7 separate regions of the Homo sapiens genome follow, and all the other regions are linked to region 6. Evidence: fine-mapped expression QTL. A gene starts in region 6. Each other region holds a variant in brackets. All regions are shown on one strand. Distances are between the middles of the regions.

What was found. PIP is the estimated chance that this variant, and not a neighbour inherited with it, causes the effect.
Region 1: its variant is fine-mapped to the expression of ERV3-1 in whole blood (TOPMed, PIP above 0.99).
Region 2: its variant is fine-mapped to the expression of ERV3-1 in whole blood (INTERVAL, PIP above 0.99).
Region 3: its variant is fine-mapped to the expression of ERV3-1 in whole blood (INTERVAL, PIP above 0.99).
Region 4: its variant is fine-mapped to the expression of ERV3-1 in nucleus accumbens (GTEx, PIP above 0.99).
Region 5: its variant is fine-mapped to the expression of ERV3-1 in spleen (GTEx, PIP above 0.99).
Region 7: its variant is fine-mapped to the expression of ERV3-1 in tibial artery (GTEx, PIP 0.99).

Annotation. Positions count from the first base shown.
Region 1 is chr7:65,074,782-65,078,848 of GRCh38, reverse strand. No RefSeq gene overlaps it. Among named protein-coding and RNA genes, the nearest start is that of SNORA15B-1, 6.3 kb to the right of the region's middle. The variant A/G (reference allele first, on the strand shown) is at 1,684.
Region 2 is chr7:64,914,965-64,919,031 of GRCh38, reverse strand. It overlaps ZNF273 (zinc finger protein 273), which reads right to left. Exons shown (of 4, transcript NM_021148.3): 2 at 1,325-1,451; 3 at 740-835. Among named protein-coding and RNA genes, the nearest start is that of ZNF273, 14 kb to the right of the region's middle. The variant TG/G (reference allele first, on the strand shown) is at 2,489.
Region 3 is chr7:64,976,957-64,981,023 of GRCh38, reverse strand. ZNF117 (zinc finger protein 117) reads left to right here. Exons shown (of 4, transcript NM_015852.5): 4 at 1,488-4,067. The coding sequence ends at 2,905. It overlaps ERV3-1-ZNF117 (ERV3-1-ZNF117 readthrough), which reads left to right. Exons shown (of 4, transcript NM_001348050.2): 4 at 1,488-4,067. The coding sequence ends at 2,905. Among named protein-coding and RNA genes, the nearest start is that of ZNF117, 12 kb to the left of the region's middle. The variant G/A (reference allele first, on the strand shown) is at 1,701.
Region 4 is chr7:64,792,935-64,797,001 of GRCh38, reverse strand. ZNF138 (zinc finger protein 138) reads right to left here and starts at 2,574. Exons shown (of 4, transcript NM_001271639.2): 1 at 2,431-2,574. The coding sequence starts at 2,433. RefSeq lists enhancers at 1,974-2,534, 2,319-2,558, 2,799-2,848. The variant C/T (reference allele first, on the strand shown) is at 1,710.
Region 5 is chr7:65,361,747-65,365,813 of GRCh38, reverse strand. No RefSeq gene overlaps it. Among named protein-coding and RNA genes, the nearest start is that of ZNF92, 10 kb to the left of the region's middle. The variant A/T (reference allele first, on the strand shown) is at 1,989.
Region 6 is chr7:65,005,051-65,009,117 of GRCh38, reverse strand. It overlaps ERV3-1 (endogenous retrovirus group 3 member 1, envelope), which reads left to right and starts at 2,431. Exons shown (of 2, transcript NM_001007253.4): 1 at 2,431-2,577. ERV3-1-ZNF117 (ERV3-1-ZNF117 readthrough) reads left to right here and starts at 2,372. Exons shown (of 4, transcript NM_001348050.2): 1 at 2,372-2,577. It overlaps LOC105375330 (a long non-coding RNA gene), which reads left to right. Exons shown (of 6, transcript XR_927607.1): 5 at 1-132; 6 at 407-444. RefSeq lists a silencer at 2,171-2,340 and an enhancer at 2,441-2,500.
Region 7 is chr7:64,949,994-64,954,060 of GRCh38, reverse strand. No RefSeq gene overlaps it. Among named protein-coding and RNA genes, the nearest start is that of ZNF117, 39 kb to the left of the region's middle. The variant GA/A (reference allele first, on the strand shown) is at 2,277.

The sequences.
Region 1 (4,067 bases), 70 kb before region 6:
AAAAAGAAAGGAAAAAAGAATGAGATTAGAGAGGGCCTTCATTCCTCCTGGAAGAACACCTGATGTACCTGAAATCTTTGTTGGTGACAGGAAATATGTCGATAGCATAGGGTTTCACTGTTGCCTCCCACACAGGGCCTTCACCATCTCTGTCATCTGGAGAATTTGTTCCCATCAGGAATCTCCCACCTGGCAGTGGGACCATGCTAGTAGCCTGTCCATTTCCTGCAGATAAAAAAGAGAGGTATCGGTAATACATGCATATATATAAAACAAGTGGTAATATTTGGATCGTATGCAATACTCATGATGGTATGACAAAACAAAACAAAAAATGTGGAGGTTTAAAAATCTGGCTTTAAATTCCTTTTGCATTTTGTTTGCCTTCACATTCTTGTTCTGCCACTTAGTTTGATGGGAAACCTTAGGCAAATTTCTTAATCTGAGATTCAATTTCTTTTCTTTTTTCTTTTTTTTTTTGTGACGGGATCTCACTCTGTCACCCAGGCTGGAGTGCAGTCATGCAGTCTTGGCTCACTACAGCCTCTGCCCCCGTGGGCTCAAGCAGTCCTCCCACCTCAGCCTCCTAAGAGCTGGGACCACAAGTGTGCACCACCACGCCTGGCTAATTTTTGTATTTTTTGTAGAGATGGGGTTTTGTTATGTTGCCCAGGCTGGTCTCAAACTCCTGAGATCAAGTGATCCTTCCACCTCAGCCTCCCAAAGTGCTGGGATTACAGGTGTGAGCCAACACGCCCGGCTGAGATTCAATTTCTTCATCTGAAAAATGAGGATACCTATGGACAACTGTAGCTTGTTCATAAAAGAAAAAAAAAATAAGTATGAAAAATGGGGATACTATCTCACTATCTCTTAGGTAGTAGCTGTATCAATTAAAGTAACATGGAACCAGGTTCAATGGCTCAGAGACAGGGTGCAGAAGCGAAGGCAGGAGGATTGCTTGAGCCCAGGAGTTCAAGGTTGCGGTAAGCTATGATCATGTCACTGCACTCCAGCCTGGGTGACAGAGTGAGATCCTGTCTCAAAAAATAAAAAATAAAAAGATAGTAATAAAATAGCATGGGTGAAATGTTGCGCACATGATAGATTTGCACTTACCTCTTTCTTCCTCTACACAAACCCTTGCCCCAACTAGGCGAATTTAGACACTCTACCCTAAAATACATCTAGCACTTTCTACCCATCCTTCTGCTCATGCTGTTTCTCTGCCTCTTCCTCTCCATTTACTGAACTCTTACAGTTCTTGGTGATTCTCACCATTATATGCTCCAGAAGGGAAGTATATAATACATATATATTTTTGACAGTATATACCTGGTCCCTGCCATAAATGCGCAATGATTATCGCCAAATAGTTAAATGAGCACCTTTAGACTTGTTTGAATGCCTCAGAAATATCATAGAATTAAAAAGGACCGGCCAGGCATGGTGGCTCACGTCTGGAATCCCAGCACTTTGGGAGGCAGAGGTGGGCAAATCACCTGAGGTCAAGAGTTAAAGACCAGCCTGGCCAACATGGCGAAACCCCATCTCTATTAAAAATACAAAAATTAGGCTGGGTGCGGTGGCTCACACCTGTAATCCCAGCACTTTGGGAGGCCAAGGTGGGCGGATCACGAGGTCAGGAGATCAAGACCATCCTGGCTAACAAGGTGAAACCCC[A/G]TCTCTACTAAAAACTACAAAAAAATTAGCTGGGCCTGGTGGCGGGCACCTGTAGTCCCAGCTACTCGGGAGGCTGAGGCAGGAGAATGGTGTGAACCCGGGAGGTGGAGCTTGCAGTGAGCTAAGATCGTGCCACTGCACTCCAGCCTGGGCAACAGAGCGAGACTCCATCTCAAAAAAAAAAAAAAAAAAGCCAGGCATGATGGTGCACACCAGTAATCCCAGCTACTTGGGAGGCTGAGGCAGGAGAATCACTTGAACCTGGGAGGCGGAGGTTATAGTGAGCCAAGATCGTGCCACTGCACTCCAGCTTGGGGGACAGAGCGAGACTCTGTCTCAAAATAAATAAAAAAGGGTCTGTGCTTCAAACTCCTTATTCCACAGGAGGAAACCAAGACCCAAAAAAGAAATATGACTTAAAGAGCTGGTTAGCAGCTGACAGGACTAGATTCGGGTCTCTTTACAGTACTGTTTCCAATAGGCCACACTTCTTCAGCTTGATGCACCACTTCAGTGTCTTTACAAGAAAGGATGTCTAAGCACTGTAACTTCTTTCAAGGCAGAGTCCTGGTCTTTTGATGTTCCTCAAGATCCTGTCTTTGGCTCTCTTATTCTGACACATTCACACTGATTTCATCCATTTTTTTTCTTTCTTTTTGTTTTTTTTTTTTTGAGGCAGAGCCTTGCCCTGTTGCCCAGGCCAGAGTGCAGTGGCATGATCTCGGCTCACTGCAACCTCTGTCTCCTGGGTTTAAGCGATTCTCCTGCCTCAGCCTCCTGAGTAGCTAAGACTACAGGTGCGTGCCAACACTCCCAGCTAATTTTTTGTATTTTTAGTAGAGATGGGGTTTCACCATATTGGCCAGGCTGGTCTTGAACTCCTGACCTTGTGATCCACCCGCCTTGGCCTCTCAAAGTGCTGGGATGACAGGCTTGAGCCACCGCGCCTGGCCTATTTTCAGTTTCTTCAACAAATATATCACCAAGGGGAAAAAATGGATCATCCTGGCATGGTGTCTCAGGCCTGTAATCCCAGCACTTTGGGAAGCTGAGGCAGGGATTGCTTGAGGCCACAGTGAGCTATGATGGCACCACTGCACTCCAGCCTGGGCAACACAGTGAGACCTTGTCCCCCCGCCCCACCAAAAAAACAAATAAATAAAAGGAGTAAGTAGGGAAATAATCAGATTGAATCAGAATTAAGAAATAACATACAATTGCAATGTATGAGCTTTATTTTGTCCCTAATTCAGCCAGCAAACGTTAAAAACCCTTTATGAGATAATAGATGAATTTGAACAGATTGGATATATTATTAAGCAGCACTGCCAGTTTTTTAGTTGAGAAAGGGTAATTATTTTTTCGTGACTTCTTTTGACTATTCCAGCTGAAGGTTTAGAATAAAATGGGTTATGTCTGGACCCACTTCAAAATGGCTCCAGGAGACGGGGAGAGTGCGATTCCACAGGAGCAGGACTGGCCACAAACTGGCAGCTCTTTAAGGTGGCCCACGAGTACGTGAGGGCAGGGGTCGTTCCTCGTTACATTCTCCTCTTTCCCTTTTTTTTTTTTTTGAGATGAAGTCTCGCTCTATCTCCCAGGCTGGAGTGCAGTGTCACAATCTCGGCTCACTGCAGCCTCCGCCCCCTGGCTTCAAGCGATTCCCCTGCCTCAGCTTCCTGAGTAGCTGGGATTACAGGCCTACGCCACCACGCCCGGCTGATTTTTTGTATTTTTGTGGAGACGGGGTTTCACCATGTTGGCCAGGCTGGTCTCCAACTCCTAACCTCAAGTGATCCACCCGTCTCGGCCTCCCAAAGTGCTGGGATTATAGGCATGAGCCACCGCGCCCGGCCTCTCTTTCCCTTTTATAAGTTTGAAAGATTCCAGAGCAAGAAGTTGAAAGCACAAGGCGGTGAGGCACCCTGCGCACCGAGAGCGACCTCCCCAGCCGGCGGCTGCAGGCGCATCCCGGAAGCGGGCAGAGGGGCCTCAGGCTCTCTCCCGCCAGGGCGGAGGGCCCCATCCCCTTTCCCAGCGCCCCCGGCGTGGCCGGCGGTTCAATGACCTAGCCTGAGCCACGCACCAACCAGGAGCGACAGCAGGGACAGCAGCGGTGATGAACAACCCATGCTGGCATCAGGACTGGCGCGCCACGCCGCGCACACCCACGGCCCCGCTGCTCATCCGCCCTCACGCACCACGGTGGCAGTCGCCTCCTCCACACATGCGCATGCTGCTCCACCACCGCCCCTCACCCAACGGTTCAGCGGGGGAAACTGACGGACACGAGGTGTAGGACTGGCCATACCACCTGCAAGGCTGCCCAGGGAAGTAAGGAAAAGCAGGTTGAGGGTCCCTAGAGGCCCCTTCACTACTTTTTG
Region 2 (4,067 bases), 90 kb after region 6:
ATGAACAAAACCCAATGTAATATAAACTACTCTCACATATTTCAGATGTGATGCAAAAAGAGAACATGAAAAATAGTTTAACACAGAGTTTCTCAAAATTATGCAGATATCTGTGTGTCCCCCAAAACAATGGAAAAGCAGTAAGATTGTGCAGTTTCCTATATGCCAGGAATAGGACTTTAGCTTTCACCATAAACTTGAAGGAAAATCACTGAAGGGAAAGTAGAATCCTTAGAGAATTTAAAAGCATAAGACAGAATATGCTCCTATGTGAGAGCAAAGGAAAAAAAAAAATCCAGCTCTCCAGAAACTACTTTTTTTGAACGCAGCTTCCCAAATCACATTTTTTTTTTTTTTTTTTTTTTTTTTTTTGAGATGGAGTCTCACTCTGTCTCCAGGCTGGAGTGCAGTGGCACAATCTTGGCTCACTGCAACCTCCGCCTCCCTGGTTCAAGTGATTTTCCTGCCTCAGCCTTCCAAGTAGCTGGGACTACAGGCATGTGCCACCACGCCCAGCTAATTTTTGTATTTTCAGTAGAGACAGGGTTTCACCATGTTGGTCAGGATGCTCTGGATCTCTTGACCTCGTGATCCGCCCGCCTCGGCCTCCCAAAGTGCTGGGATTACAGACGTGAGCCACCGCGCCTGGCCCAAATCACATTTTAAGAACTGACTTTCTCCTTGACCTTTAGACCTGTCATCTGTGTCATCTGTTATATTCGCTATCACTCTCACCTACCTGGGGGTTTGGCTACCATCGCATGTCTCTTCATATTGCAGGGCTCTTTTCCTTGCTCCAGACAAGTGATCAGGTCTGGCTTAGAGACAGCAATACCTGTTTTATTAAAAATGAGTAACATGAATCTTGCTCATATTCTCCAATTATCAACCAGTAATGTGCTCAGTAAAGAGGATGTAATTAAGTATTCTAGTAAATTAATCCCAAAATATCTAATTAGTAATGTAAATTTCTAAATATTTAAAAAATATTTTAAATTTGTATGTTCTTAATTTCACTACTCAGTACTACGGAATGAAAAATTAGTGGTGGCAATTAGATTTTACGGTGTGGGCAACTTTTATGCCACTAAATTTTTGGAATTACCATTAATCTAGAGTGAAGGATACAGAGTAGCTCAAGAACGTGGAAAGTTCAAGTCAAGATGAAACATCTTGAAGAAATTCATTTCTAAATGAACAAATCCCCAGGATTTTGTTGAAAATAGGGATCTAAAATTTATTTATGCAAAGCAGAAATTTCCAAAAAACATTCTACAGAAAGGAGAAGTGAAACCTTTAAATTATGTATTAAAATTATCCTCACCCAGGAAGACCAGGTTTCTGTAGTTATCTAACATCACATTCCTATACAAATTCTGCTGTGAAGTGTCCAGGCATTGCCACTCCTCCAGAGAGAATTCTATGGCCACATCCCTAAATGTCAGTGGTCCCTGAAAAACACACACACACAAAAACATATTTACCAACTTGCTCTGGACAGAATATTTAATTTGACTCAAGGTGGAATGCGAAAGTAAAGAGAACTGGTTTTTACTTATAGGAGTGACTAAAATTATCCAATAAAATAATTTTCAAAACAGAAATATTCTCAAATGTGTTCTCTAACTCTGAGAAAAGAGTAGCATAAGATCCACAATAGCAGTTTATATATGATACTTTTCTAGATAATAAAGTATAAAATTAGTAACACAAACACGTACATTTGTGAGTGCTATATTTACATCATACAGAATCAGCTGTGTATATTTTTCAGATAGAAAAGAAATGCTGTGTTACAAGCTAGCTTTAAAATTTTAATGTGTACAGTAATAAACTGGAGATCTTGTTATGCAGATTTTCTTTCCAGAAGATCTGGAATAAAGTCTGAGTTTCCAAATTTTTAACAAGCTCACCAGTAATGCCAATGTTTTTGGCCCAAGAAGAATATTTTGTCAAACATCCAGTAAGTGGAAGAGCCTGTGATTTTCCCAGTTTTTCTGGCCTGTAAACAAAGATGAGAGCCTTTATTTTCCAAAGACAAATATATACAAAGGAAACCTAAGAAAGAAGGGCAGCTTCCAGATTAAATGTGATGGTTTATGCACATCAGCTGCATAAAGATACTTAATAAAGAAGAGAAAAATAATTAACTCTATAGTAAGAAAAATAAATCTGTCAGAGAGCTCTTTTATTTTATTATACTTTAAGTTCTGGGTTACATGTGCAGAACATGTAACATAGGTTACATGTTCTGTTACATAGGTATACCAAGTGAATCATTAACATCAACTGAACCAGGACAGATTTGTATGATGCGCTGAGGCACACAGAAAAACACAGCATCACTGCTTCAATATTGCCCCTCGCAAAAGTAAATTATAGTCTGAATTTAACCATACACAAACATCAGTTTTATGCCCTCTTCAAGATACAGATAACTCTTATGTTGTTATTTTGTGTGTATGGTTTTTTTTTTTTTTTTTTTTTT[TG/G]AGACAGTTTTGCTCCCTTGCCCAGGCTAGAGTGCAATGGTGTGATCTCGGCTCAGTGCAATCTTCGCCTCCCGAATTCAAGCGATTCTCCTGCTTCAGTCTCCCAAGTAGGTGGGATTACAGGCGCCTGCCGCCGCTGCCATGCCCAGCTAATTTTTTTTTTTTTTTTTTTACATTTTTAGTAGAGATGGGGTTTCACCATGTTGGCCAGCCTGGTCTCGAACTCCTGTCCGCCTCAACCTCCAAAAGTGTATGGGATTACAGGCGTGAGCGACGTGCCTATCTTATGTTGTTATTTTTAACAGTAATTTTAAGTAGTCTTCAACACCGTAGAGAGCAGTTTTCTCCTAATAATTTTTTTTCTTGTTGCCCAGGCTGGAGTACAGTGATGCAATCTCTGATCACTACAACCTCTGCCTCTCAGGCTCAAGCGATTCTCCTGCCTCAGTCTCCCTAGTAGCTGGGACTACAAGCATGTGCCACCACACCCAGCTAATTTTTGTATTTTTAGTATAGACGAGGTTTCACCATGTTGGCCAGGCTGGTCTTGAACTCCTGGCCTCAGGTGATTTGCCCACCTCAACCTCCCAAAGTGCTGGGATTACAGGCATGAACCATCATGCCTGGCCATCTCTGAGTAATTATTTTTTAGAACTTTTTGGGTAATAAATGTTATCCTGTTTAAATAAGCATTTTGTTAATTCTGTTCTGCATAGAGCTAATGGAGAACACAAATGAAACCCCAACATTACATGTTCTCCATATTTACAAAGGACCCCAGCTTGTTGGAAACAGGCCCCCCAAAATCTGGCCATAAACTGGCCCCAAAACTGGCCATAAACAAAACCTCTGCAGCACTGTGACATGTTCATGATGGCCATGACGCCCACGCTGGAAGGTTGTGGGTTTACCGGAATGAACACCTGGCCCACCCAGGGCGGAAAACCGCTTAAAGGCTTTCTTAAACCACAAACAATAGCATGGGCGATCTGTGCCTTCAGGACGTGCTCCTGCTGCAGATAAGTAGCCCAACCCATCCCTTTATTTCAACCCATCCCTTTATTTCCCATAAGAACTACTTTTAATCTATAATCTACATAAACAATGCTTATCACTGGCTTGCTGTCAATAAATACGTGGGTAAATCTCTGTTTGAGGCTCTAAGCTCTGAAGGCTGTGAGACCCCTGATTTCCCACTTCACACCTCTATATTTCTGTGTGTGTCTTTAATTCCTCTAGCGCCGCTGGGTTAGGTTCTCCCTGACCGAGCTGGTCTCGGCACCAGCTTTTCCCCAATAGGAATGTTGAGTATCCACAGCCACAAAGGAAACATTTTTAATGTTGCACATCACAAAGTCATGTGAGAATTCTGCATGGAATATAAGAAGCCACGATGTAGAGAAAGTAGAGTAGGCTCTGGTATATAGGAAAGAAGTATTTTTCAGAGATGCTTGACTATCATGAGAATTTTTTAAAGTAGTTAAAATAAACTTAATAGGGAAGAAAAATGCAAGTAGAGAAGCAAAGGTTTACAAGTACTAAACGCATGGCATTCCAGGAGGCAGAGTGGACACAGCT
Region 3 (4,067 bases), 28 kb after region 6:
ATCAAGTCTGAAATGTGTGAGTAGTGATTTCTGTTCCATTGGTTTTTTTGTTGTTGTTTATTTTTCTGTATATTCCATTCTGTTTTTACTACTATAGCTTTGAAATATAGTTACATATGTAAGGCATATGCAGTGCCAATATACCTTTTCAGGATTTGGCTATTTTGGATTGGCTTTTTCTTTTTATTTGGCAGGACAGATTTGCTGCTGGTATTATTCTCACTTGACAGCTATTTTCTTCAGGACTTGGACAATGTCACACAGTTAGTTCCCTTCTGGCCTGCAAATTTTCTTGAGAAATTCACTCATTACCTCATAAGACTATGCTTATAAATAACATATCACTTTTATCTTGCAACTCACAATATTCTCTTGTCTGTGACTTTTAAAATTGTGCTTATATATGTTCTTGTTGTAAATATCTTTGTGTGTATTCTAGTTTCTTTGTTAACCTTTTTAATTTTTACATCAGTTTTTCTTATAATTTTTCAGTTCCTTTTTTATATTTTTTACCTCCACAATATCTGTTTTTTGATATTTTTAATATTTTTGTTATCCCAATTTTTATGATTTTTAATAGTTGTCTGTGTTTCTATTTCATTCATGGAGTATTATTCAATTTATGTTAACTTTTTAAAATTAATTTTTTAATGGTTGCTTTCTGAAAATTTTATAATATCTGATAGAGCTATGTTGCCCTAAAATTTTGTATGCATTGTAATCTTTAATTGAAATTTGAACATTAAAAACAAGCTACCTGTCACAGTGTCTATAATGTAGCTTTGTCCTGGCAAAGTCTGAAACCATTTGTCTTAGCTAGAGATCCTGAGAGTCTTTCAAACATGTTCTTAGGATGTGTCTTGTCTGAAATGTTCTAGTTGTTTTTTAGTTAAAAGACTTTATTCATGTTTCTTCTTAATAGTCATCACTTGCCACAACTGTTCCCTGTCTGTAGTACAGTCTCTTTCCTGCTGTAACATTTACCTTTGATCTCAGCAGACTCAAAATGTCATTCCAAAGTATACCACTGTTAATTTCAGCACTTTATGTCATTGGAGACAGAAACCAGTGTCCGCCAAAGCACCTAATAAAGCCAGAAATAAAGATGTGGGTGTGTTATTTTTCTTGTCTGTTGAAAAAGAAAGCAAAAGTTGGTAATGTACTTCTAAAGACACTATGTTATACTGAGGAGCAGAAAGAGCTGTGTTGGGTAAATGTAACCAACTTTTCTCTTCCTTCCATGTGGCTTTTGGAATTGTGATAACCTGGAACACTGCACACACGTAACTCATTTATAAATTTTCTATAAATGCATTTTGGTCAATATGCTCTTGTTACATTTATATGTCTATGAAGGAATTAGAACCTGTGGTATTTTGCTATGCCATCTTGCTTATGTAGTTTCTGTAACTTTATGGGTTAGATTTGTAAAGTATATTCATCTGAGTCGAGCAAGTGAAGTAGTTTGTTACTTTTATTTCTTTCAGTTATGTTTTATTATTTTGCCCAACACCTTTGGCCAGAGCAGAACATAAGAGATTCTTTCCAGAAAGTGACCCTAAGAAGATATAGAAAATGTGGATATGAGAATTTACAGTTAAGAAAAGGCTGTAAAAGTGTGGTTGAGTGTAAACAGCACAAAGGAGATTATAGTGGACTTAACCAATGTTTGAAAACTACCTTGAGCAAAATATTTCAAT[G/A]TAATAAATATGTAGAAGTTTTCCATAAAATTTCAAATTCAAATAGACACAAGATGAGACATACTGAAAATAAACATTTTAAATGTAAAGAATGTCGCAAAACATTTTGCATGCTTTCACACCTAACTCAACATAAAAGAATCCAAACTAGAGTGAATTTCTACAAATGTGAAGCATATGGAAGAGCCTTTAACTGGTCCTCAACCCTTAATAAACATAAGAGAATTCATACTGGAGAAAAACCTTACAAATGTAAAGAATGTGGCAAAGCCTTTAACCAGACCTCACACCTTATTAGACATAAGAGAATTCATACTGAAGAGAAACCCTACAAATGTGAAGAATGTGGCAAAGCCTTTAACCAGTCATCGACCCTTACTACACATAATATAATTCATACTGGGGAAATTCCCTACAAATGTGAGAAATGTGTTAGAGCTTTTAACCAAGCCTCAAAGCTTACTGAACATAAGTTAATTCATACCGGAGAGAAACGTTATGAATGTGAAGAATGCGGCAAAGCTTTTAACCGATCCTCAAAACTTACTGAACATAAGTACATTCATACTGGAGAGAAGCTGTACAAATGTGAAGAATGTGGTAAAGCCTTTAACCAGTCCTCAACCCTTACTACACATAAGAGAATTCATAGTGGAGAGAAGCCCTACAAATGTGAAGAATGTGGCAAAGCTTTTAAACAATTTTCAAATCTTACTGACCATAAAAAAATTCATACTGGAGAGAAACCCTACAAATGTGAGGAATGTGGCAAAGCTTTTAACCAACTCTCAAACCTTACTAGACATAAGGTAATTCATACTGGAGAGAAACCCTACAAATGTGGAGAATGTGGCAAAGCCTTTAACCAGTCCTCAGCCCTTAATACACATAAGATAATCCATACTGGAGAGAATCCCCACAAATGTAGAGAATCTGGCAAAGTTTTCCACCTATCCTCAAAACTTAGTACATGTAAGAAAATTCATACTGGAGAGAAACTCTACAAATGTGAAGAATGTGGCAAAGCCTTTAACCGATCTTCAACCCTTATTGGACATAAGAGAATTCATACTGGAGAGAAACCCTACAAATGTGAAGAATGTGGCAAAGCTTTTAACCAATCTTCAACACTTACTACACATAAGATAATTCATACTGAAGAGAAACAGTACAAATGTGATGAATGTGGCAAAGCTTCTACCTGATCCTCAAAACTCATTGAACACAAGAAAATTCATACTGGAGAGAAACCTTACAAGTGTGAAGAATGTGGCAAAACTTCTAACCATTTCTCAACCCTTACTAAACATAAGATGATTCATACTGGAGAGAAGTTACACAAATGTGATGAATGTGACAAAGCTTTTAACCAATCTTCAACCCTTTCTACACATAAAAGAATTCATACTGGAGAGAAACCCTACAAATGTGAAGAATGTGGCAGAGCTTTTAATTGATCATCAAACCTTATTAAACATAAGAAAATTCATATTGGAGAGAAACCCTACAAATGTGAAGAATGTGGAAAAGCTTTTAACCAGTTCTCAACTCTTACTACACATAAAATAATTCATACTGGAGAGAAACCATATAAATGTGAAGAATGTGGCAAAGCTTTCAACCTATACGTAAACCTTACTACACATAAGAAAATTCATACTGGAGAGAAACCCTACAAGTGTGAAGAATGTGGCAAAGCTTTTAGCCAAGTGTCAACTCTTACTATACATAAAAGAATTCATACTGGAGAGAAACCCTACAAGTGTGAAGAATGTGGCAAAGCTTTTAACCAAGTGTCAACTCTTACTATACATAAAAGAATTCATACTGGAGAGAAACCTTACAAATGTGAGGAATGTGGCAAAACTTTCAGTCGATGCTCAAAACTTACTACACATAAGAAAATTCATACAGGAGAGAAACCTTACAAATGTGAAAAATGTGCTAAAGCTTTTAGCCAGTCTTCAACCCTTTCTACATATAAGATAATTCACACTGGAGAGAAATGCTACAAATGTGAAGAATGTGGCAAAGTTTTTAACCGATCTTCAAACCTTACAGACCATAAAAAAATTCATACAGGAGAGAAATCCTACAAATGTGAAGAATGTGACAAGGCCTTTAACCTGTCCTCAACGCTTACTAAACATAAGGTAATTCATACTGGAGAGAAACTGTACAAATGTAAAGAATGTGGTAAAGCTTTTAAACAGTTCTCACACCTTGCTATACATAATATAATTCATACTGGAGAGAAACTCTACAAATGTGAAGAATGTGGCAAAGCTTTTAACTTATCCTCAAACCTTACTGCACATAAGAAAAATCGTACTGGAGAGAAACCCTACAAATGTGAAGAATGTGGCA
Region 4 (4,067 bases), 210 kb after region 6:
CTCAGCTCACTGCAACCTCTGCCTATGGGGTTCAAATGATTCTCCCACCTCAGCCTCCCGAATAGCTGGGATTACAGGTGCCTATCACCATTCATGGCTAATTTCTAATTTTTGTATTTTTAGTAGAGATGGGGTTTCACCATGTTGGCCAGGCTGGTCTAGAACTCCTGACCTCAGGTGATCTCCCTGCCTTGGCCTCCCACAGTGCTGGGATTTCAGGCATGAGCCACCGCACCCCGCCGGAAATGTATTCGTTTTCCACAGCCAAAATGGAAGAAGTATTTTCCCTATTCTTTTCCTTGGTAGCATTCTAAAAGCTAAGCCTTGGAATACTCTTGGACATCACCCAGCCATAAAAAAACAGACCTGAGAAAATTCCTAAACTCAGTCTGGGAAAGAAAAAGGTAAATGAGAATACTTAACAAATAGAATATATGATTAGATATTTTTTTCCAAAACCCATCTCTTTCATGCCCATTCTAATTATCCTCTTACCTTTTAGTCCTACTAATAAACTGCAAGTTACAATTAAAACACTGAAGTAAGTGAACAAATCTTTTCAGGGTGACAATCCCAGGGAGTGGCAGTGCTGATTAAAAAACAGATGTATCTCACTCACATGTCAAGTCAAGCCACCCAATCACTTGAGAGATTCTCCCACCCCATCCTGCTCACTTAAGTGCTAAACGACCACCCTCTCTGAAGACCACCCTCTCTGAAGACGCTGCACTATGCCTCAGTGACTGCCCCAAGTACATTTCACTTTGCAAGTTCTTGAACCATCTCACTGGGGTAAGGTTTGATTTGTCTTTTTGGATACTATCATTTCTTTCACAAATCTTAGAGAATCCAGTGGGCCGAAATTATTTCTGTGTTCTCCCCTCAATACCAGCATATGATTGATTGACCAGCAATATGTCTCCGGAAATGGACACTGGGTTGGTTTGAAGACAATCTTAACTTCTCAAAGGGTTTGCTTTTCAAAGGAAGAGTACACCAGGAGATTCCTCTCAGCCCCAGGGCATTCACCTGCTCCCTTGAGAGGCTACACTCCAACCTCAGGTTGTCCTCTGTCTCCCATTCCCAGATAACCAGAGTTCATTCCAGGCCAGGAGCTGAAATTTACCAGAGATTCTAGCATACACAGCCACAGTGGATATTTTGATTTATCCTCAGAAAGTACTGAAACCCAGGACCAAGGAAAAAACTGAAGAGTGACTAAGGACACATTACCTTATAAAGTTTCCAAAGGGAAACCTTGACCCAAAAATATTCTGATAAGATCTCTGTACCTAGGGAAGATTTAAAAAAAAAAAAAAAGGCACAGAGATTTTTTACAATACAGCATCAGGGGATGAGTCTTTGGTTTCTTCTCATGGGAAATATTTACAAACAGATAACAAATCTTTTTTAAAATGCCATCCATGCTTTGTCAAAAAATGATTAATTAAAATACAGTATTTCAAATGTACACTAAAGGACAAATAGTTGATAATGTGAATTAGGAAGGGGAAGTTGGCATTTGGGAATGTCAGAAGGAACTGGAAATTTAGTATTTTACTGCAAGCCAGAGTTAGGCTGAAGGAATGGGAAATGGGGAGGGGGAGGAGTCTTGAGACCCTGCTTGGGACACATGTGAAAAATGAAGGGGAAGATCTGTCCCCTGTGGAGTGTGAAAATAATTAAGTGGCAGGCAATTAGACTGAGGT[C/T]GCTCCAGTCCCAGGGTTTCTGGTTTTAAAAAAATCTAACTCAAATGCATTTTTTTGTAAATTACTACCTTGTGAAAAATAAAATTCATGTTTAACCAACTGTAAACTGCCAATTAACCTCTGATTACATGACCAGGAAATTTCCTCCTTCATTGTACAAATTAAGAAACTACATAACTCTACTAACCAATTACTGAATTTGGTTTTATCATACACCTTATACAAGTGTTTCCTTCAAACCCCTCCCACGGACCACTACTGCAAACCACAGCTGGGTGCTCCACAATTCTTGAATCACTGTTTGATTAAATTAATTTTTTTGCGGTGACTTTCATAAATTTTAATAGGGGAAAAGAGGGACAGGGAAGCCCGCGGAGGAAACCTCTTCCCATTCATGAACCCAGCACCCCGAGTCAGGATTCTCCCCTGACGACCCTCCCGTCGTCTCTGCACAATCGCTGCGGGTGCAGAGCTGCTCAGAGAGGGCTCCAGGCCAGGGCACAGTCACTGCGCAGGGAGGAGACAGGACGCCTGGTTCCGGCTGTCAGCCCAGCTGCCATGCTATGGCTTAAGGGGACTGAGGGCCGAGCTGTGCCAAGAACTCGGGGCCGCGGATTTTGCAGCCGACTGCGGGAAGACCCGAGTACTGCCACAGCCACTTCCGACCGGTTCCAACCAGCTCCCTCCCCCTCTCTCGGGATGTCGGACCCAGCACTCTCACCATTTCTAGGCTTCCGGGGGATCCTGGCGTCTTAGCTGTGAATCTCCCAATAACCAGATCACAGCGCCACAGAGGCTGGGCCTCTAGGAGTAAGAGGACGCAGAAAAGTGAAGGCCAGACCTGCAGCACCCGCTGCAGCGAGACAAAGACCCCGCCGCCTCCCGGAAGACGTCATGTCCGCTCCAGCTGGGTGCCTGATTGGACCGTTCCCAGCCCGGCGTCCCTGATTGGATAACGTTTAACAACCCGCCCCCTCAGGCCCTGAGTGACAGATGTGCTCAGGTGCTGGGCTGAAGGAAGACAGAGTTAAACCTAAGCAGCAGCCTTTTCCAGAAGGGCTTCCTCCCTGAGCTGAGTCAGGCCCACCCCAGAGGGCATTTGCATTTAACCTTGTGTATAAGGTCGTATGCATTTATAAATAACATATAGCTATTCACATCTGAATATAACAATTATTTTTAAATTCCAGATTTTATAACCGTACTGGCTTCTGGTCCTTTGAGCAGGCAGCCTGAGATTTTTTTCTTTTTTTTTTTTGAGACAGAGTCTCACTCTCACCCAGGCTCAAGCACAGTGGCACGATTTCGGCTCACCCCAAACTCCGCATCTCGGGCTCAAGTGATTCTCCTGCCTTAGCCTCCTGAGTAATTGGGATTACAGGCACCCGCCTCCACGCCCGGCTACTTTTTGTATATTTAATAGAGACAGAATTTTGCCATGTTGGTCAGGCTGATCTCGAACTCCTGACCTCAGGTGATCCACCTGCCTCGGCCTCCCAAAGTGCTGGGATTACAGAGCACATGTGAATTCCAAATTTTCTAGTAGTCAAACTTTAAGAATAAACAGGTGGAATTCACTCTAATTGAGATGGTTAGTCATTTAGGCTGGGCTCAGTGAGACCATTCTTGTGACCTCAGCTGAGTTCCTTCAGACATGTATCATCAGCTGCTTGTTGACTAGGCAGCTGTGCTTCTGGGGGTGAGCTTCTGCTTCTGAGGCTGTCAACAGAGGCAACTTGCTTCTCCTCCCCATACTATTTTATCTTCCATCTGGCTAACATGGGCTTTTTTCGCGGAGATAGTAGCCTTCTGAAAGAAAAACAGAAGCATGCAAAACCATTTGAGCCTACGCCTCAAACTAGCACACTGCACTGTTCACAGGTTTTTACTGCCCTGAGCAAATAAGGCCAGCCAGATCTAGGGTTTGGAAAACAGAACTGGATCTCAATGGAAACAGCTGTAAATGCACCTGGCAATGGGCATGGATAGCGGAGGGATGAAAAATTGCTAACATTTTTGCAATCAGTATCATTCTGCCTTTTTTTGCATATGTGGTTTATATAACTCTTCCACATCAAAAAAAAAAAAATTTGTGCAAAGACCCACAGCTATTAAGTGGCTGGGCTGGGACTCAGAATTAACTCCATTTGACCCTTGAAATCCTGGAGAGTGACACTTCTAAAATAGAAGCCAGATTTCTTTTAGATTTGTGCCCATATAGCACTGTTTATTATTATTGCTAGAAATAATCTTAAGAAATTGAAGAAGCACACGGTAGCTCACATCTATAATCCTAGCACTTTGGCAAGCTGAGATGGGAGAATCACTTGCGCTCAGGAGTTCAAGTGCAGCCTGAAT
Region 5 (4,067 bases), 360 kb before region 6:
CTGGTTAGAGAACACACATTGCATTTGTTAAATACTTAAATTGCATTTTTTATTTTTATGGCATTGAGTATATTCTCTCCTAGAGAAGATTCCACATGCATTTAAGGAGAATATATAACCTGCAGGTGCTTCCTGGGGGCATACTAAGCATGTCTGCTAGGTCTAGTTATTTTTACCTTTCTTTTCAAGTGCTTCATTTTCTTGCTGATCTTCTTACTGCTTTTTAAATGATTATTAAAAGATATGTATGTCTTCGATTATCATCGTTGAATTCTCTATTTTTTCTTCATTTTTCTCGGTTTTGACTTTATGTATTTTGCCGATTATTTCTTGGTGTATATATGTTTATAATTGTCATGCCATCCTTTTTATTATCTTTTTTATTATCCATTTTATCTCTATCAAATGTCCTACTTTATGTCTATTAAATATTTTTGTTTTAAATTCTGCTTATTCTAATTTTAAAATAACAGCTACAACTTTCTTTTTTCTTTTCTTTCTTTTTTTTTTTTGAGACAGAGTCTCGCTCTGTCGCCCAAGCCGGAGTGAAATGGCATGATCTCGGCTCACTGCAACCTCTGCTTCTCGGGTTCCAGCGATTCTCCTGCTTCAGCCTCCTGAGTAGCTGAGACTACAGGCGTATGCCACCAAGCCTGATTAATTTTTTTGTACTTTTGGTAGAGACGGGGTTTCACCATGTTGGCCAGGCTGGTCTCAAACTCCTGGCCTCAAATGATCCGCCAGCCTCGGCCTCCCAAAGTGCTGGGATTACAGGCATAAGCCACCGTGCCCAGCCAACAAATACAACTTTCTTATGGTAGCTATTTGCATGCTTCCGCCTTTTCACTTTTATAGTATTTGTTCTTTTGTATCCAAAGTGCATGTATTGTGAACAGCATTCAATTAGATTTTTCTATATTTAATTTTTTAAATCTCAGCTTTCCTTAATTGTTTAATTTTTTTTTTTTTTTTGACGTAGTTTCACTGTGTCGCCCAGGCTGAAGTGCACTGGTGTGATCTTGGGTCACTGCAACTCCACCTCCCGGGTTCAAGAGATTCTCCTGCCTCAGCCTCCTGAGTAGCTGGGACTCCAGGCGTGCAGCACCACACCCAGGTAATTTTTGTATTATTAGTAGAGATGGGGTTTCACCATGTTGGCCAGGCTGGTCTCGAACTCCTGACCTCAAGTGATCCGCCTGCCTTGGCCTCCCAAAGTGCTGGGATTACAGGCGTGAGCCACTGCACCTGGCCCTGTTTAATCTTTTTATATGTAATGTTATTATTTATATAGCTGTGCTTATATTTGTTATATTATTTTCTTTTCTATAATCTCATGCATTTTGTTATATTTTTCTACTTCTACTGCTTTGTTTTGCATTAAGAGCATAATTATTATGTAACATTCTAATTTCTTTCATAATTTTCTTCACATATTTTTGGAATTATACCCTTAGTTGTTTCTCTAATTCTTACAATTAGAGATGGAGTCTCGCTCTGTCGCCAGGCTGGAGTGCAGTGGCACGATCTCAGCTCACTGCAACCTCAGCCTGCGGGGTTCAAGTGATTCTCCTGCCACAGCCTCTGGAGTAGCTGGAACTACAGGCGTGGGCCACCATGCCCAGCTAATTTTTGTATTTTTAGTAGAGACAGGGTTTCACCATGTTGGCCAGGATGGTCTCGATGTGTTGACCTTGTGTTCCGCCTGCCTCAGTCTCCCAAAGTGCTGGAATTACAGGTGTGAGCCACCGTACCCAGCCTAAAACATACTTTTTTTTTTTTTTTTTTGAGACGGAGTCTCACTCTGTCTCCTAGGCTGGAGTGCAATGGTGCGATCTTGGCTCACTGCAACCTCTGCCTCCCGGGTTCAAGCGATTCTCCTGCCTCAGCCTCCCGAGTAGCTGGGATTACAGGCACCCAACACTACGCCCAGCTAATTTTTCTATTTTTAATAGAGACGGGTTTCACCATGTTGGTCAGGCTGGTCTCGA[A/T]CTCCTGATCTCAGGTGATCCGCCCGCCTCGGCCTCCCAAAGTGCTGGAATTACAGGCATGAGCTACCATGCCCGGCCCCACAATATACATCTTATGTCATTAGAATGTGTTTCACATTTATACAAACTTAATACTAATGAAATACAAAACATGTTGGTTCTATATTATTTGTTCCTCTCATTTTTGTTGTATTAATTTTACACTTATTATATCCACATGTTATAAATTTGACACATTTTTACACTTATTTTATATAATTTTATTTATTTTAAGGAAAAGGTAATTACATATCTACGTCTTTTTTGATAATCATCCTTTTATTAGTTGTTTTATTTACTTATTCCAGTGGAATCAATTTATTATCAAGAGATTTTATTTTTTTGAGACAGAGTCTTGCTTTGTCCCCCACGCTGGAGTGCAGTGGTGTGATCTCAGCTCACTGCAACCTCAGCCTTCCAGGTTCAAGTGATTCTCCTGCCTCAGCCTGCCAAGTAGCTGGGATTACAGGCGCACACCACCACGCCCAGCTAATTTTTGTATTTTTAGTAGAGACGGGGTTTCACCATGTTGGTCAGGCTGGTCTCGAACTCCTGACCTCGTGATTTGCCCGCCTTGGCCTCCCAAAGTGCTGGATTACAGGCATGAGCCACCACACCCAGCCTATATTCATATTTTTATACAATTGTTTGTCTGAAATGAAGTAAGATAATAACGAAAAAGTAATATTCTTTTATACTTTCTTTTGTAATAATTACCTTTACCAATACTCTGTCATTTTATGTGAATTCAAATTATTATCTGTGGTCAGTTGATTTTAGCCTTATCTTCGTTTAATATTTTCTGTAAGATGGGCTGGCTAGCACCAAATTTTCTCAGTTTTTTTGCTCTGGAATGTGTTTATTTTACATTTAGTTTTAATAAATATATTTTCTCAATGTAGGATTTTTACATGACAATTTTTCTTTGAGGAATAAGAAAATTTCAATTGAACGTGAAAGGCTTTCAAGAGTGATTAGTCTTAATAATTAAAGCCTTAATAACTGAGGCTTATATAGTTTACTAACTAAAGCCTTTTAGTTTTAATAACTAAGAGCTTAGTTATTAAAGGCTTTAGTTTTAATAAATATATTTTCTTAGTACAGGATTTTTACATGACAGTTTTTCTTTGAAAACTAGAAACAAATTTCAGTTAAACTTGAAAGGCCTTTCAAGAGGACAAATCAATACCTAAAAACGCCAACTGGGTTAACATAGGAAAGCCTATCAATGGCAGAAGATAATATGTTAAATTGGGTTGGAGAGAGCAGTGAGAATAAAACTTGTGGACAATAAAAGTATATAAGGTGAGCCAGGCATGGTGGTTCATGCCTGCAATCCCAGCACTTTGGGAGGCCGAGGCAGGTGGATCGTCTGAGGTCAGGAGTTTAAGACCAGCCTGGCCAACATGGTGAAACCTCATCTCTACTAAAAATCCAAAAACATAGCGAGGCGTGGTGGCCGGCGCCTGTAATCCCAGCTACTCGGGAGGCTGAGGCAGGAGAACCACTTGAACTCGGGAGACGGGATTTGCAGTGAGTCGAGGTCACGCCACTATACTCCAGCCTGGACAACAAGAGCGAAACTCCATCTCAAAAAAAAAAAAAAAAAAAAAACAAAGAAAAAGAAAAAGTATATAAGGTGAGTAGTTCTGACTGAGGTCAAATGAGGAGCTATTATTATTATTTATTTTATTTTATTTTTTTGAGACGGAGTCTAGCTCTGTTGCCCAGGCTGGAGTGCAGTGGCGCAATCTCGGCTCACTGCAACCTCCACCTCCTGGGTTCCAGCGATTCTCCTGCCTCAGCCTCCCGAGTAGCTGGGATTACAGGCGCCCGCCACCACACCCAGCTAATTTTTATATTTTTAGTAGAGACTAAAAGGTTAACTTTTAGGTTCAACATAGGTTTCACTATGTTGGCCAGGCTGGTCTTGAACTTCTGACCTCAGGTGATCTGTCCACCTCAGCCTCCCAAACTGCTGGGATTACAGGCGTGAGCCACAGCACCCAGCCAAGATCTCTTGAAGACAGGTTATCTCAA
Region 6 (4,067 bases):
AGTGCTGGGATTACAGGAGTGAACCACCAAGCCCGGCCTGACCTCTTGGCTATTACCAAAGTATGTTTGCTTCTGAGGAAGCTGGAAGCTGCAGCCACAATGTGCCTTTGCAGGGGAGCCTGAGAGCCACAGGTAAGGACAACTGAGTTAGACAGGAGGGATGAGGCCTAGGGGGAGGGCAGAGTGCATCACATTCCCCCACCCAGACCCACGGGCCACGGCATCATGGCCCCATGGAAGGCCCCACTCCTGTCTCTCTGTCTGTGTGATTCCCAGTTATTCCCATTCCCCCAACAGATAAACCTCCCAATGGATTCAATGCATACACTTTTATTAAATCTCACTCTGTCACCCAGGCTGGAGTGCAGTGGCATGATCTTGGCTCACTGCAAGCTCCGCTTTACAGGTTCAAGCGATTCTCTTCAGCCTCCTGAGTAGCTGGGACTACAGGCATGCACCACCAGACCTGGCTAATTTTTTTGTATTTTTAGCAGAAATGGGGTTTCACCATGTTGGTCAGGCTGATCATGAACTCCTGACCTCAAATAACCCACCTGCCTCGGCCTCCCAAAGTGCTGGGATCACCTGCCCCAGCCTCCCAAAGTGCTGGGATCACCTGCCCACTCCCTTGGTGAGGAGCCCCCTAGGGCACCTCCACCTCCTAGAGCACAAATGTTGTTGAGATGAGCAGCTTGAGACATGGTATGGACCTATGCGGAGGTGTCCCTAGACAATGATGGCATCAGAGTGAGAGGCTGGATGAGGATGTGTCTGGGGGAGCTTCGAGGTGCTGTGATATGTAAGAGATCATTAATTACAGGATGCCACCCCAAGGAGAATATGCATGGACCAAAGATGAGGGGTCCCCAGGAGGGTAAACCAATAGTAATGCCCCCAGATTCCATTCCTAGCCAGGCTCCCTGCTAAGTGACAATTAGAAAAATTCCTCTTTACAGAAAACAGAGCATCAATTAGGTCCCCAACTACAGAGCCAGTCCTCTACCCTCCAGTGAAACTTCCAGTGGGCAAGAAAAGCTTGGGAAAGCCAGAAGGAATAGGAACCACAGCTCAGGCCGGGCCGAGGCTTCATAAATCAAAAGGACATTTTTTTTTTAAGAGATAAGGTCTCACTCCATCACCCAGGCTGGTGTGCAGTGACCCAATCATGCCTCACTGTAGCCTTGAACTCGTGAGCTCAAGTTATCCTCCCAGCTCAGCCTCCTGAGTAGCTGGGACCACAGGTGCACACCAACACGCCTTGCTAACTTTTATTTTTATTTTTGAGACACAGTCTCGCTCTGTCACCCAGGCTGGAGTGCAATGGTGCGTTCTTGGCTCACTGCAACCTCCACCTCCTGGGTTCAAGTGACCCTCCTGCCTCAGCCTCCCAAGTAGCTGGAATTACAGGTGCACGCCACCAGGCCCAGCTAATTTTTGTATTTTTATAGAGACAGGGTTTCACCATGTTGGCCAGGCTGGTCTTGAACTCCTGACCTCAGGTGATCCGCCCACCTCAGCCTCCCAAAGTGCTGAGATTACAGGCGTGAGCCACCGTACCCAGCCCATGGCTAATTTTTAAACTTTTTTGTAGAGATGGAGTCTCACTATGTTGCCCAGGCTGGTCTCAAGCTCCTGGCTTCAAGCAGTCCTCCCACCTCAGCCTCCCAAAGTGCTGGGATTACAGGCATGAGCCACCATGCCCAGCCGCAGAAGGGCAATTATTACACAGTGACAGTGGAAGGAACAGAGACACAGTCGGTGGATGGTGGGAAGATAAGAACATTCACTCTGAGGGCTTCTAGTAACGTTGGAGAAGTGAGCATCAGCTTAGCAGAAGGGAGGGAGGGAAGGAAGCACAGGAGGTTTGAGGAGAGAGAGAGAGGAAGTATGAAATCAGAGCTGCACTTCAATGTGGTGGCTATTGGCCATGTGTGGCTACAGGATAGCTGGAATATGGCTGGTCTGAACTGCGATGTGCTAGAAAGGTAAAATACAGGGTTAGATTTAAAGATTTAGTTCCAAGAATATATACACTACATTAATAATTACATATTGCTCCTATACTAAAATAATATTTTGGATATATTGGGTTATTAAATGGTTAGAATGAATTTCACCTGTTTCTTCTTTCTTCTTAACTACTAGAAAATTTAGAATTCACACATGGCTCACATTTTATTTCAGACGGTTGCCTTACAAGGCAAATGCCGTCTGGGGAGGGCCTGGGTCAGCTCAGGGAGGAAGCTCTGCCTGAAAAGGCTTAGGGTTCACTCTACATTCAGCCCAGCATCTGAGCACGTCTTCTGTCAATCAAGGCCTGAGAGGGTGGGGCCCTAAACATTATCCAATCAGGGACGCTGGGCTGGGACCCGTCCAATCAGGCACTCAGCTGGAGCAGACAGGACGGCTTCCGGGTTTGGTGGGGCCTTTGTCTCTGGCGGCAGCCGGAGCTTCTGGTGTAGTCTTCACTGCTCTGTGTCTTCTGCTCCTAGAGGCCCAGCTTCTGTGGCCTCGTTACCTGCAGGTATTGGGAGATCCACAGCTAAGACGCCAGGACCCACTGGAAGCCTAGAAATGGTGAGAGTGCCGGGTCCGACATCCCGAGAGAGGGGGCGGGGCTGGTTGGAACTGGTGGGAAGTGGCTGTGGCGGGACTCTGGCCTCCCCGCAGCTGGCTCCAAAATCCGCGGCCCCGAGTTCTCCTTGGCGCAGCTCGGCCCTCAGTCCCCTTCAGCCATAGGATGGCGGCCGGGCTGACAGCTCGGACCCCGGGCATCCTGTCTCCTCCCTGCGCAGTGACTGTGCCTTGTTCTGGAGTCCTCTGTGGGCAGCTCTGCCCCCACTGCCGCAGCTCTCCCCGATTGTGCAGGGACCACTGGACGGTCGTCAGGGGAGAATACTGACTCAGGATGCAGAGTTCATGAATGGGAAGAGCTTTGGTCTGCGGGGTTCCCAGTCCCCCTTTTTTTCTATTAAAAATTTGTGGAAGTCTCCGCAGAAATATTAAAGAATTTAATTAAAGAGTAATTCAAGAATTGTAGAGCACCAAGCTATGTTTTGTAGTTTGTGGTTTATGGAAGGGGCTTGAAGAAAACACTTTTATAAAGTGCATGATAAAGGAAAGCAAATTCAATAATTGGTTAGGTAAAGTTATGTAGTTTCTTAATTTGTACGATCAAGGTGGAAATTCCCTGGTCATGTAATGAGAGGTTAATTGGCAGTTTATAGTTGGTTAAGCCTGAATTTTATTTTCCCCCAATGTAATACTTTAGAAAAAAATCATTCGAGTTAGATTTTTTTGCAAGTAGCAACCCTAGGACTGGAGCCACCTCAGTCTAATTGCCTGCCACTTAATTATTTTCACACTCCACAGGGCACTGATTTTCCTCTGCATTTTTCACTTCTGTCTCAAGCAGGGTCTCAAGACTTCTCCCCATTTCCCATTCCTCCAGCCTAACTCTGGCTTGCAGTAAAATACTAAATTTCCAGTTCCTTCTGACATTCCCAAATGCCAATTTCCCCTCCCTAATTCACATTATCAACTATTTGTCCTTTAATGTACACTTTAGTGTACATTTTAGGTACCATATTTTAATTAATCATTTTTTGACAAAGCATTGGCTGGCATTTTAAAAAAGATTTGTTTTCTGTTTGTAAAGATTTCCCAAGAGAAGAAAGCAAAGAATAATCCCCTGACACTGTATTGTAAAAAATGTTCTGTGCCTCCTTTCCTTTTATTGCCTCTAGCCACAGAAACCTTATCAGAATATTTTTGGGTCAGGGTTTCCCTTTGGAAACTTTATAAGGTAATGTGTCCTCAGCCACCCTTCAGTTTTTTCCCTGGTTCTGGGTTTCAGTACTGTCTGGGGATAAATCAAGATATCCACTGTGGCTGTGTATGCTACAATGTCTAGTAAATTTCAGCTCCTGGCCTGGAATGAAACTTCGCATATCTGGGAATGGGAGACAGGACAGCCTGAAGTTGGAGTGTAGCCTCTCAAGGGAGCAGGTGGATGCCCTGAGGCTGAGAGGAGTCTCCTGGGGTACTCTTCCTTTGAAAAGCAAACC
Region 7 (4,067 bases), 55 kb after region 6:
AAGAAGCAAAGACCAGATTTAGGATTTGCTCCGTTATTAAGTCCTTGATATTTCAGGGCAGTACAAGAATTTCGATAGGTAGGAAAATGCATACAATATACACACATGGCTTTTCTCTGATTTGCTTTAACATTAAAAAATTGAAGATTACAAATCTAATCTCTTAATTTACAGTAAATTTAAAAAGGATTTATTTTTCCACCAAGAAAATAATTATATAAAATTAATGGGTAACAGATGCCTTTAGCTGCCAGAAAATAGCATGACTAGATTCAGTAAGTATGTAGCCACGCAAATAACAGTCCATTACATTAAGACCCTAATAGGTGCATGTGGAAAACATTTCTGTGCTATGTTGTGCACCTTCACTCTGCACTTTCTTCTGCCTGTTTACAGAGATACCAATTTCCCCTGAGTAACTCAGGGTGAATACCGGGAATTGAGAATGCTGTGTTCAGAGGGATTACTACAAACATCATTAACACATTTTTCCATATTATAAAGACATTTCATAAATCTTATTCTGCCTCACAAAGGCTTTTAGTAAAAAAAAGTTTCTTTACAGTGTTCAAATTGAATTCATGAAAAATTTCAATATTCTAGGTAAGTCAGAGACACTTAAGTGTCAACAAAATTTCATAATACATACTTGAATGAGATAAAGTCTTCTTAACTAAGAATTTTATTTTATTTTATCACTACATTTAGAGAAGAATAAAAAACTGGTACTTTGAGCCAAATAACAGTGTTTGGCACGTGAGTACCACCCAAACAAGTGCTTTTCATCATCATCATTAAAATGGCAATCCATGTGCTTTCCTGGCACCAGGTGGCCTGTTTTCCACTGATATAAAGTGGAGAAGGCTTTATATTAAAATAATGAAGGAGGGTGATATAAATTGAATACCTGTATGAAATACAACTTATAATAAAAAGCAGAAAGAAATCTTACCACTAATGCTTCTCCTATAAAATATCACCAGAAATTAACTGGTTATTATCCTCAGTTTTCCTTCCATGAAAAATGGCAGGGACACATTGTAAGGAACATCAAAAGAGAACAGATGAAGTAGCCAAAGGAAACAGGTTATCTGATCAGACAGCTAAGTCAAAGGTGAGGAAGCCTCAAAGAATTAACACACTTCAAGCCCTTCGAATATAGGAAGGCTCCATAAGAGAAAATAAACCTCAGTATTTCTCTGTGGAAATAGAATGGGCTGCTTCTTGAGGGTATATTTTCATCTCTCAGGATGGCTACAGTCAGAGGACAGAGGATGGCAAACTCCATTTGCCAGCCTCAAGCCAATGGAAAGTCCTTAAAATCCTTCAACAAGTTTTTCACTTAGGAAAGGATAAATCTTATCATTGTGTTCAGAGATTCTTTTCAGGCAGAAAACCTCTAAGTTGGTTAAGCATGTAACCTCTCTAGCTCACTTCCAACAGGAATTGACACAACTGGCAGAAGCCCAACCCCAGGAAATAGGAACACCTTTGTTTAACTCGAGATTTGGCATTAGTGAAAACTCTCTCCTTTCCTAAACTCAAACTGGGAAGAGCCCTACACTGATTTTCTTTCAAGCCCCTTGGCAGTAAAAGTTACAGGTATCAAATTCTGAATGCATCACACTCAAGTCAAAGCCTGAAGAGCTGAGGGAGCAACCTCTGACAGCCCAGAGGAATGTCCTGAATATCAGTGTGGAGAAATAGAAGATCTTAACCTGAAAATCGTAAAAGATAAGTAACTGAGTGAGAGCTACTCATCTTACTCAATCCCATCTACCTCACCAGATACTTTAAAAAAATTCTACATTTCCTCTCAAAATTCACCGCCAAATATTAGACCTTCTTTTTAATGCATATTTGCCAGAAATTTCAATTATACATAGAATTGCATTTGTAACTTCATAAATTCCCAAAGGAGAATGTTATAGCTTGGCAAGTAAAGTTTTAAACAGAAACTATTTACTACACCACTTTTGCAGGAATTGTTATATTCACGCTATTATTTGCAATAGAACTGTACACTGTGGCACCCACAATGTGGAATTCTGGTTGTAAAATTCTAATTGCTGAAACAATTTGCCTAATTATTATCTTTGTAAAAGGATTAGCAGTTGCAGAAAAGATTTAGTCAAGTTTGTTTTGCTTATAGCAGGAGTAAGAGTTATGGATAGGAAGTAAGCATGGAAGTTTTACTATCGTTAAGTTTGATAGGACTTTGTATTAAAGATTAGTACTATGGTGCACTCTAAGCTATGGAAAGAAGGTTATAAAAA[GA/A]TTTTATATAAGAAAATATCTTGTATGGTAAATTCTTGTCCTGAAAGGAAATGACTGGCTGTTTAAAGGAAGGATGTTTAGGACAAGTCAGAAATTTTAAGAATCTTGTAAGAGGGCCTGTCATGAAAGAATTTAATAATTAAAGGAAAGAAATTGCTAAGATCAACACTAAAGTTATTTTAGCCACCCAATAACGTATTCTCCCAATGATATTGTAAGTTATAAAAGATGGCCTAAACCTAATAGTATTCCCTAATGGCAAGTCATGGGGGAAATGTATGTTTTCTCAAAACAAATGTTACTTTCATATTAACATTTCTGGCAATGTACAGCAACATCTAGTGGAGGCAAACTGGTATTACAATCCATTGGTGTAGCTAACAGCTAACAAACTCTGCTGTCACAGTTATGGTCTATAGGATCTCTACTAACAATGGTAAGCTAAATACTCATATTCTAACCCTATATTTCAAGCCTTCTTGAAAAATTTCTCTCTTTTCACCTAGAAACAATTAAACCTTAAATGGTGCTATGAACAGAGCCACACATGGACACACCATTCTTTTGAGAACCCTTAGATCAACCTCAGAAGGAGCCCCAACTGCTGTCCCCCTGCCACAGCACTCCTTTTCTTTCTTTTCATTTTTTCTCTCTTTTTTTGTTTTTTGAGATGGAGTCTTGCTCTGTCACACAGGCTGGAGTGCAATGGCATGATCTCAGCTCACTGCAACTTCTGCCTCCCAGGTTCAAGCAATTCTTCTGCCTGAGCTTCCTGCGTAGCTGGGAATACAGGCAGATGCCATCACGCCTAGCTAATTTTTGTATTTTTAGTAGAGATTGGGTTTCACCATGTTGGCTGGTCTTGAACTCCTGACCTCATTATCCACCCACCTTGGCCTCCTAAAGTGCTGAAATTACAGTCGTGAGCCACCGCGCCCGGCCCACAGCACTCCTTTCCAACAGGAAGTACCCAGAAAGAGTTACGTTTGCCAAGCCCAGCTCGGTCGTGGAGACCCTAACCCAGCAGCACTAGAGGAATTAAAGACACACACACAGAAATATAGCATGTGGAGTGGGAAATCAGGGGACTCACAGCCTTCAGAGCTGAGAGCCATGAGCAGAGATTTACCCACATATTTATTGACAGCAAGCCAGTGATAAGTATTGTTTCTATAGATTATAGATTAACTAAAAGCACTCCTTACAGGAAACAAAAGGATGGGCCGAAACAAAGGGATGGGCTCTGGCTAGTTATCTGCAGCAGGAACATGTCCTTAAGGCATAGGTTGTTTGTGGTTTAGGAATACCTATAAGTGGTTTTCCGCCCTGGATAGGCCAGGTGTTCCTCGCTCTCATTCCGGTAAACCACAGCCTTCCAGCATGGGCGTTATGGCCACCATGAACATGTCACAGCGCTGCAGAGATTTTGTTTATGGCCAGTTTTGGGGCCAGTTTATGTCCAGATTTGGGGGCCTATTCCCCAGCATATCCCCCTTCTTGTTTTTGCAGGGCAATAAAAGCAAAGGCAGCTTTATCACGGTGAGCTACTTCTCGCAGGAGTCAGGATCTGCATCTGCAGACTACACAAAGACAAACAACACAGATTAATAACACAATCATCATTGAAATCACAGAGCTTCCAAGTGTTTTCATCCATTTTAATGGGTTACTGGCTGCTAATCCGTCTGCAGCTCCTTCAAGCACTCCAGTTCCTGGTATTAAGGTCAGATGTGCCTGGGATGCTTTAAATATTTGTTCTTTTAACTTTGCAATATCCAAAAACCAGTTTG